3 linked regions of the Homo sapiens genome follow. The protein of the gene in region 1 interacts with the protein of each later gene in a pairwise test. Each region holds a gene or a part of one and is shown in the gene's direction. Other genes may lie near its edges.

What was found.
Region 2: the proteins of SNAP25 (region 1) and ZNF177 interact in binary tests that used the Homo sapiens proteins (3 or more experiments, as listed by UniProt).
Region 3: the proteins of SNAP25 (region 1) and OSBPL8 interact in a protein complementation assay, tested with the Homo sapiens proteins (one study listed by BioGRID).

The regions. Positions count from the first base shown.
Region 1 is NC_000020.11:10,295,270-10,298,926, forward strand, and holds part of SNAP25 (synaptosomal-associated protein 25), read left to right. Parts: intron 1-1,655; coding exon 1,656-1,781; coding exon of another isoform or gene 1,782-1,785; intron 1,786-3,657.
Region 2 is NC_000019.10:9,365,938-9,369,594, forward strand, and holds part of ZNF177 (zinc finger protein 177), read left to right. Parts: intron 1-3,657. UniProt on the Homo sapiens protein: May be involved in transcriptional regulation.
Region 3 is NC_000012.12:76,353,761-76,357,417, reverse strand, and holds part of OSBPL8 (oxysterol-binding protein-related protein 8), read left to right. Parts: intron 1-689; coding exon 690-792; intron 793-1,396; coding exon 1,397-1,529; 3' UTR 1,530-3,657. UniProt on the Homo sapiens protein: Lipid transporter involved in lipid countertransport between the endoplasmic reticulum and the plasma membrane: specifically exchanges phosphatidylserine with phosphatidylinositol 4-phosphate (PI4P), delivering phosphatidylserine to the plasma membrane in exchange for PI4P, which is degraded by the SAC1/SACM1L phosphatase in the endoplasmic reticulum.

The DNA.
Region 1 (3,657 bases):
TCAGAAACGCATACTTCCCACTCCTTTGACTTTGCCAAAGATGGTATAGCAGACATTTGACATAGCAGAAAACATCACAAAGTCCATATAACTTCTTTTAATCTGAGGAGGGAGGAGATGGGGAGTTGGAAAAATAAAAATTAAAAAAGCCAGACTCTAAGCCCTATTAAATTTAGTTTGGGGATCTCGTTTCATTGAATGGGTCCATGGCCCTTTGGTGCAATTAATTTTGACTGCACTAAGGCCTGCGGCATTATAGACTTGATTGTGGGAGTTGCTGAAATTCCATTGGTACAATTTTCCAGTTTGTCTCTAGGGTTGCTTGGCCCCCAGTCTGCAAGTATTAGAGCCAGTTTTAATAGATGGCTGTGGTCCTCTGGCGAAAGAAGAAGATAAAATGTTAAATTCTGGTGTCTTACAAAAAAAAATGTGAAAATGGGACCAAAGAATGTCTCTTGTTTTTGGACTAAAAAGCATATGGTTTCTACTATGTAAAGAACCTAAAAACATCTTTGATTGCCTTTAATTACAACACTCACCAAAATATGCTGCACATGTTTCTATTGGGCACAATAGGTATGCCTGGATTTTAAGTCTTTTCTCCAAGGCAGCTCAGTGAAATACAGCCCATGGAGACCATACCAGCATTAAACCACTCTCCTCCATTACAACCCCAGGATAGTTTAAACTAGGAGTTTGTAAGCACTCTCTGCCCTGCCCCTCAGCCCAACAAAGAAGCTACTGAACCTGCGTTTCAAATCCTCATGAAGGCTATTACTGTCCTGCTAGTGCCTTTTTCGAGAATGGTCAACTTCTGGAGTAGTTTGGCTTAAATGAGAATGCTTCACTTTCTACTCATGCCTGTAGCTGGTGCATGAAGAAGACGTAGAGGGGTTTCCCTTTTTGGTGCTAGATGGCTTGTTCTCTCTTCTCTTTTCCTGCATTCATTTCACTATGCTTCTTTTACTTTTTGTCTCTGTGGACAAAGGTTTGTACATCAACTCTGGATGTATGGTGACTGTTTGGAAGTACCGATATATTATCTAATTCAAATCACTCTAGAGGCAATGCAAAGACCATCACTCTTGGCCAACCACCAATCCTTTATGTCCTTCATGGAGCTTTGGAAATGTTAGTTCCACACGTGTTGGGAAAAAAAAATATTCCACAGGGATCTTTGCATGATGGTGTGTAAAAACTTGGTTGAGGATGTTTTCTTGATGACAGTGTGTTGCTGTGGTGTGATGTGCACACTCTACTTGGCAGTCTTGTTTTGTGTCTGTCTGCCAGTATGTTTTTCTCTGTTTTATGTCTCCAAATATAATCACATCACTAAAATAGAATTAAATGTCCTCCAGCTACCTTAATCCTTGTCCAAAATCCAAACTAAACCACAAAACAAACCAAAACAAGAACAACCTTGTGGGCAAAGATTGCAGTCCATTGCAATGGATTCGATTGGAAGTGAAATGTTGAGTAGCTGAGGCATGGTGGTGGCCAACTGTTTGGGTCTGGATTATGATATATCGGTATTATCTAATGCCTCGACTTAAAACTCATTCGCTTGGTTCGATTCTTCGCTTGAAGAAGTGACAATTGTTGAGAGCTTGCTCCTCCACCCCTGTGCCTTGTCACTCACCCTCTCTTTTGCATAGGCTTAAATCAAGTGATGCTTACAAAAAAGCCTGGGGCAATAATCAGGACGGAGTGGTGGCCAGCCAGCCTGCTCGTGTAGTGGACGAACGGGAGCAGATGGCCATCAGTGGCGGCTTCATCCGCAGGTGAGCCTCATGCAGCATACACTGTAGCAGTTCTCTATTGTCAAGTACAAACAACTCCAAAACTGAGTGGTTTTCTAAAAAACAACCATTTTATTGCTCATTAATCTACATACCTGCTAAGTGTTCTTTTCTAAGCCTTTCCTGGACCTTGCCTGGGTGGGGTGATCCAAGATGGCCCCATTCACTTGTCTGGTGGTTGGCTGGGGCTGTTGGTGGGGCATGTCTGTTCTTCTCCATGTGGCCTCTTCAGCAAGAGAGCCCAGGTTCCTTACATGGTGGTAGCAGTATTCCAAGGGGGCAAGCCTCAGTGCACTTACCAAACCTTTGCTTGCTTACCTTGTATTTGCCGGTTTCATTAGACAAAGCAAGTCACATGACCACATCCAGACTCAATGTGGCAGTAGACAGGCATCACATTCCATGAGTTTAATTGAATAGAGCTTATAAAAGAGACTACTTACAGAGGGGTGGGCAGGACTAATAACAAGGAATGGTGAAGCACTTCTGAGCTAGCAATAGCAGGAAGTTGTTACCACCATAGTCCTGGGGGACAGGAGAAGGAATGATTATCAGAACCCAGCAATAGTTACGACTGTGGGCAAGGAACTATCAGTAGAGAAATACAGCCACTACCAAAGCTAACAGGGAGTGAAAGAGGGAAATAAATGCTGTAGCCCCTCACTCCTCTTGCCCTGCAGTTTCATTGGCCATTAGCCAAAGCCTACTGAAAGCCAGAGGGTAAGAGGAGCTGGGTGATATAGTCATGAGGTCAGCTCCTGAGAGCACAGAGCAAAGAAGGTCCAAGAACGGATTTGGAGTGAAAATAGAGAATAATGAGCTTCTTATTAATGATTTATTTTGAAACCTAGAATCAAAAGCCAATTTAAATATCTATTTTTAAAAGTTCAAATTATGACTCAGGGGCATTTCCTTTAAAAAAAAAAAAAACTCAAGTTACACACATCAGCCAATTCAGAACTCAGCTCTCCCTTTGCTCCCAGGGAAAGTAGCCCAAGGGTTCTCAAGCCTGGCTGTACATTAGAATCACCAGGGGAGACTTTTTTTTCTTTTACTACCAGTGTTTGGGCCCAATCCACACCAATTGAACCAGAATCTCTTGAAGTGAGACACAAGCACCTGTGGCCCATTAAAGCTCCTCAGGTGATTCTGATATGCACTCAGGGCCAAGCACCATTGAACTAGAAGTATCTCTTAGCTATTGATGATCATTTAAATAAACTTCTTCCCTACAGGAAAAAGCCAGAAAGTTCTCCTTTAGTTTTTTAATTTTCTCTGCCCTGGGCTGCTTTTGAAACCATAATGAGCCAGTCTGCATTGGGAGTTACCATGGGGGAAGGATTTTAACCCTTCTGAATATTTTTTAGCTCAATACCATATATACTAGGGAAATTCTGAAATAAGTACCTCCTTAACTTTCAAGTTGGACTGTGAAAAAATGTAATGTGTTTTGTGAGCCAGCTCCTTCCTCCCATTCCCATTCCACTCAACCTGAAACAATACTCTTTTGTCACAGTTTCACAGTTTTTGACTCTGAAATCACCTATGCACCATGCCACTAAAAAACCCATGTTATTAACATATGAGTAAATAAAAATCATCTTGAACAAGTAGCTCTCCTTGGAGTTCCTGGGAGCAAGCAGGGTTAAGGGGCAAACTGTAATTATCATTACTCTTCCCATTGGTGTCAATCCCAAGTGTGAAAAGAGATGAGCACAGAGACTCTGACTTAGCACAATAAGCTTTTTATTGTATTCTTAATTTGAGTCTTAGAAATTTTGAGACTTAATTTGAGTCTTAGAAATATTAAGAATATTCTTAGAAAGAAGAATATCGTTTCTAATTCCATCTTCGTGCT
Region 2 (3,657 bases), on another chromosome or scaffold:
ACAGAGCAAAGAGCAGGAGGATAGGGGATTGATCTCCCAAGGGAGGTCCCCAGATCTGAGTCACAGCACCAAATCTACCTCTGTCGCCAGGCTAGAGTGCAGTGGCGCAATCTCGGCTCACTGCAACCTCTGCCTCCCGGGTTCAAGTGATTCTCCTGCCTCAGCCTCCCAAGTAGCTAGGATTACAGGCATGCTCCACCACACCCGGCTAATTTTTGTATTTTTAGTAGAGACGTTCTTTCACCATGTTGGCCAGAGTGGTCTGGATCTCCTGACCTCGTGATGCGCCCACCTTGGCTTCCCAAAGTGCTGGGACTACAGGCGTGAGCCACCGTGCCTAGCCTCATTCCTTTTTTTAATGAGACAAGGTCTTTCTCTGTCACCCAGGCTGGAGTGCCGTGGTGCCCTCGACCTCCCTAGCTCGGCCTTCCACCTTAGCCTCCCGAGTAGGTAGGACCACAGGTGTGGGCCACCAAGCCTGGCTATTTTTTTAAATTTTTGGTAGAGATGAGATCTCACTGTGTTACCAGGCTGGTCTGAACTCCTGGGTTAATGTGATCCACCCACTACAGCCTCCCTAAGTGCTGAGGATTACAGGCATGAGTCACCATGCCTGGCCTTCATTTTCTATTGTCAAATGATAGTCCATTGTATGGATATACCACATTTTCATTTATCCGTTCATCGGTAGATAGACATTTGGGTTGTTTCTCCTTTTTGGCTAATATGAATAATGCTGCTGTGAATATTTCTCTTGGGTATATACCTAGGAGTGGAATGCCTTGTTCATGAGACGAACTTTTATGTTTAATCTTCTGGTAAAATGCTAGGCTGTTTGCCAACGTGGCAGCACCACTTCCCACTTCACTCCCCTCCACAAAAAAACAAGAGAATTTCTCCACATCCTCATCCACACTTGTCTTTTTAATTACACTCACCTTAATGTGTGAAGTGGTATCTTAATGTGGTTTTGATTTGCATTTCCCTGGTGTCTAATGATGTTCAGCATCTTTTCATGTGCAGTTGACCTTTTTATCTTTAGAAAAATGTACATTCAGATCATTTGCCCATCTTTGAATTGTGTTTTCAAAAGTCAGCTGAGGCTGGGCGTGGTGGCTCACGCCTGTAATCCCAGCACTTTGGGAGGCCCAGGCGGGCGGATCATGAGGTCAGCAGATCAAGACCATCCTGGCTAACACGGTGAAACCCCGTCTCTACTAAAAATACAAAAACATAGCTGGGTGTGGTGGCACGCGTCTGTAGTCCCAGCTACTTGGGAGGCTGAGGCAGGAGAATCACCTGAACCTGGCGAGGTTGCAGTGAGCAGAGATCGCACCACTGCACTCCAGCCTGGGAAACAGACCAAGAGTGTCTCAAAAAAAAAATAAAAATAAAAATAAATAAGCTGGCTGAATTAAATTCAGCCCGAAAGTTTTCAGGTTGAAAAAATTTATTTTTGAAATCATTATGTGATACTGGTTTTTATCACTTTGAGTTGATCATACAATTTTTCTTTTGCTCTATTAATGAAGCAAATTATATTGATTTTCTAATAGCAAGCATCTCTTGCATTCCTCTGGTAAACCTAACTTAATTCTGTTGTACTATATTTCCTATTTATTGACATTTTTTGTTTGGACTTATTTTCCTTAGAATATCTGAATCTATGTTGAAATTTGCCTATAATTTTGTTTACTTAAAGTGGCCTTGTCATGTTTGATATCAGTATGCCAATCTCAAAGAATATTCTTCCTTTTATACTCTTAATCACGGTAATCCCTTTGATAAGTTAAACTGTTTTGTGAAATTAGTTTAAAAGTGACCATATTTTTTTCCCTTGTAATATTGTAAACTGCTGTTAATAGAATAACCAAAGGCAAACATGACATTTTGAACCATACACAATTCTGGGGTTTGCATAAAGGCTATATTAAATAAAACCTTCCAGATACCCAGCTCTTGCCTATAGAGTGGATAAGTTATCTATACCTGAAATAATGCAAACATTAGTGACAAATTACATTGAAGTGTAGTTTAAGTAACCAGTCTTCATAAATATGCCTAATCTCTGGAATATTTTCATCCAGACTGGAATTCTTTCTTCTTTGAGTGGCATAACTGACTGATAAAGCCTTTGAGCATGGTGTTTTTTGGTGAAAACCTAAATAATCTAGTTTTGTTTTCTGTTTTAAAAGAATATCTGGGCAGTGAGTTAAGCTGGGAAGACCTAGCACCTTGCTGACGGGATCAGTCTAGATTCTTCTTTTATATTTTTTAAATTGTGGTAAAATACCTAAAGCCAAATTTGCCATTTTAATCATTTTTAAATGTACAAGTCAGTGGCATTCATTGCATTCACAGTGTTACTCAACCATCACCAGCTAGTTCTTTTTATTGTAATTTCTACACAGTTTTGGTAAGTTGTATTTCTGTAGGAATCAATTTATTTCCTGAAAGTTTTGAATTTGATTAAAGTTATTCATGTCTTGTTAATCTCTGCAACATTTGTAGTTGTGTTTTTCTCCTTTTGTCTTTGAAGAATTTTGCCCGATTTTTTTCCTAGTAGTTTTCAAAGAACCAGTTTGTAGCTTGAGTGATACTGTTGTTTTCTAGTTCATCATCGTATTTTCTGCTCTTCCCGTTCCAGCTGCTTAAGTTAATTTTTAAGTTCACTTCTTTTCTAATATAAACATATAAAGCTTATTTTTTTCCTAAGGACCAGTTTAGCTACATTCTACAAGTTGTGGTACTTAGAACTAATCAATAACCATAGTATTATGTATTTTCTAATTCAATTCTTTTATAAAAGCATAAGTTATTTGGAAGTGTGATGTTTTCTGAATTCCAAATGTGTTACTTTTTTCTGTTTGCTTGAAAAATATGAAACCACTAATATTCAACCATATTTTAAAACTACCAAAACACCCATTTCATATAGTTCAATGTAATCTCGTTATTAACTTACAACTTAGTTACATTGTAATTAAGACATGTCAGAGAACATGTTTGTATACCAAATCTTTTTCTAAGTTTTAATTTTTGTGGGCACATAGTAGGTATATATATTTAAGGGGCCCATGAGATGTTTTATATACCAAATTTGGAAGGTTTAAGACTGGCTTTACAGTATATTCACCATACAGTATGGTCAGTTTTTATAAACACTTCATGTGTGCTTCAAGAATCTATGTATACTCCATACATTCAGTAGTGTCCCTCAGTGTGCTAGATTAAGCATACTCATTGTGTTGTTCAAATCTTCATATCCTTTTTTTCATATGATCTTTCTATTGCTGAGCAGTGTTTGAAAGTCTTATAGTGATGATTTGTGTTATTTATCCTTTAATTGTGCTAGCTTCTGCTTTATAAGTTTTATGAGACTAGAATTTTATATCTTCCTAATTGGTACTTTACATCCTCATGTCATTACCTCTAATAGTGCCTTTTGTCTCAAAATCTATGAAATTAATTTAGCAAACAAACTTTATTTTGGTTAATATTCACCTGGTATATCTTTCTTATTTTTGAGACTCAATTTTTATGTGTTGTTGTGGATTTTAGTGCATCTAATGAAATAACATAGAGCTAGTTTATCTTAATCTACCAGGACAGTCTGTTTTTAAACTGCAGAATTTAGCCCATCTGTACACTTACTGT
Region 3 (3,657 bases), on another chromosome or scaffold:
TGGCTCCTTAATTCACCCTGTCATCCACTTTACTATATTACTATAATGTATCAGCAGACATTTATTGAGTAATTAATTTGTGCCAGACTGTATGTTAAATACACCTTACAACAACCCTGTGAAGTCTGGTATTATTATCCCTATTTTTAAAATGAGAAAGCTGACACTTGCAGAGAGGTTAAGTAGGATCTGAACAAAAATGGAAAGGAAGGAATGCATATGTAGGGAATTTGGAAAAACATGTACAGCTTGCTGATTGGCAGTAAAAATTTGCAGAAGTGGTGTCGAAAGGGATTTAAAGTTTAGGTAACTAAACACTCACAATAAAAAATTGGAAAAAAGGGCTCAAGAAGCTGACTTCAGAGGTAGGCAAATGGGCAAGGAACAGAAGAGAGTAATACCTTCCTCAAGTTAATATGTATTTCTAATGAATTATTTCTGTTTTAATTAGTTAAAAAAACTGGTGCCATCCAAAATTCAACTAATGTGTAGTACTTTAAATATATTTGTAGTGTTCTAGTATTGCAATGATGTGTTTGAAACTTCAAAAGTGCAGAGTATTCATATTACTATGCTAATCTCTAGGCTACAAAAACAAATGCCCAGGAAAATTTTTATTACATGAGACACATTAAATTGAACTGTAGATTATTTTTATAGTTTCAACTTCATTCTAAATGTCTTTTTAGCTCAATCAGTAAAACCAAGTACAAGAAGAAAGAAAGGAATAGAACTGGGAGACATTCAGAGTTCCATCGAATCTATAAAACAAACACAGGAAGAAATTAAAAGGTAATAATATAATGACACTGACTATTCATTTGAGACCAAGGAGTAGTTAAGAATCCTGTTATATGGGAAATCATATGCAGACTTCATATTTTTATAACATTTAGCTAAGCTAAAATACAATGTTTAGCCTCTATCACCTGATGTTTGACACTTACGAAATTCCTCCAGCACTAAAATACTTGGGAAGGAAGGAGAGGTTGTTTTTTCTCTGTAAGGGTAGAATTGGAATCACTTTATTTTACTCCTATAGCATGCTAGGAATGTAGCTGGGTTGCATGTGGAGGTGGGATTGTTTCTGAGAAAGTCAGTTAACAAAGGCCTCTATAGTCCCCTCTGTGCATGGCTGTTATTTCATTGGAATGCATCAGTTGAAATATTGAAATACATCCATAACATTGGGTAAATATTTACTCCCTGAGCCCTTAAGTATTCCTCTTTGCAGTCCCAGACCCCGCCCCCCCCCACCCCTACATACCACCCCATGACCCAGCAACTAAAAATTATTAACATTAAATGCTCTGTGACTGTTTAATATCAAATTGTGGGCTCTATGCCAACATTTCTGGCAAATCATTACAAAATTTGTTGTTGCTTATTTTTATAGAAATATTATGGCTCTTCGAAATCATTTAGTTTCAAGCACACCGGCCACGGATTATTTTCTGCAACAAAAAGACTACTTCATCATTTTCCTCCTGATTTTGCTTCAAGTCATAATAAACTTCATGTTCAAGTAGAAGTTCTCTACCATTGAATCAGTGAACTAGAAAGATCTGATTTGGCCTGGGACCAGTGTTCAAGTTGGTTTGGTCTTTATTAAAAATCACAATATTCCGAAAACAAAAAAACCTAGGAGATAAATGTAGAGGTATTGACTTTTCGTATCTTTTATCTTCACACTGAAACAAGAGCTATCCTATTTGATTATTAAAGTGAGCTATGTGTTAAGTGCCAGGACATTTCTAGCTTTTGTGAGAATGTGTCTACATATGAGTATAATAAACCCACATGTATACACAATTGTCTCTTATGTACTCCTACCTGACAGTAGTCTTTGTATTCTATAGTATGTTCTGAGATATAATGTTAACATTGTTCATAACAAAAAATGCTATCAATCTTATAAATATATGTAATCTATTTTCTTCATAAAACAGGCACAAAAGTTTTATCAGTAAGGAATTACAGATTGAGAAATGATGGAATAATAGACATAATTAATTCAATACACTACTGTTAAAATCATTTGCAAAGCACTCAGCTCAATTATCTTCTTAGAAAGAAAGAAAAAGTATGAATGGTCAAAATGAATACATCGAGAGAGATAAATGGCAAATTGCTTTTTTAAAAGTTTACATAAGTTTTTTTTAACCCCTAGAATTTAATATTTGTAGATGCAGGTAAATATATATACTTACGTGTATATCAGTATAAAAACACTGGTGTGCAATTAATTGGATTGATTATAATACCACCTTAAGCACTTGCTGAAAAAAGTGTGGTCAAAATTGATTGCTGTCCTTTTGTCTTATTTTTGTTTTTCTTAAGTCAGCTGGTTCATAACATAGGCCAAATTCTAGAGATGTTTATAGAGCATTTGAAGTGCTGATAATTTATGTTTTTTCATTATGAAAACTTATTTTAGCTTTAGACTCCAGTGTGTTCAGTGAATAAGTAGAATATAAAAAAATATAACCAGTATTTTACTTCAAAAGCCAAAAAGAGGCAATAAGAAAAGACACTTTGTGGTGGCCTTTATGTGTGCATTAAAATTGGTTTCTGTAAAACGTGTAATAAGTTGAGTATCTACGAAGAGTATCAAGTTCTGAAGTTTAATTTTTTTATTATCCTCCTCTCTTCTTAGTAACTTCTTTCTGTGGCAAAACCACAATTCTTTAAGATTCCTATTGTTCAGGCTAAGGCAAATTTTTTTGTTTGTTTCTTCAGTTTAATATTTTGATTTTGTGTTTTTACGTAAATATTTATATTCCTTGAAAGCAATTTTTGCCAAGGTAGTTCAGTTTAGGAATATGTTGTTCTAAAATATGTCTTAGAATCCTGAAAGCATAGATTTTGAAATGTTTTTTTAATGAAAATGAAGGTCAGAGAGAATAATTGCCCTGACCACATTTGCCTTTCAGTAGGAGGAGGCTGTGAAATAGTAAAATTATAATCGTTTATGCCATGATAAATACAAGATTGGTAAATAAATACATTGATTGGTAAATTATGAGAATCAAAATGATAAAAAGAGCCTGCTTTTTTCCCTAACCAATATAGCTATCTTAAGTATCCTTAGGTTTCTGTGAAGAACCATTTCCCATGTTTTCTTGGCAAAATAATGCTGTATTCCATATGTACATGTGAAATGATGTTTTAAATTGATAAAAGCTTAAATAAGATCTACCTATACCCAGTATTTTCATGATATTAGAACAAATGGGTTTTTGGTTATATTTTATATTTGTCAATATAATTTTTGTATTCACATTCTGTTACACTCTGCCTATTCATTGATATATGATATTCTGTAAATATTGTACAATTTGATCTTTTTTATGGTTTAAATTAGTTAATTACATACAAATTGATTGGCTTATCACAAAAATCATTTCATCAGTAAACCTTGTTAACATTTTGTACTGGTGACCCACCTCTTAGGACTTTGGTCTTATCCACGTGTATGTTGTTTTCATTTGGTCCAAATAATATTTTATTTGTATGGGTATCTTCTAAGACTAAATAGGTAGTTGTGTTCTTTATTTTTAAAATTTCTTTTTAGAGCAAATGTTATGGGTTCTTACCCAAAGAGTCAAAAACTATTTCTTAAGAAAGAGCAGAGTTATTCATGACTGTTCTTTATAC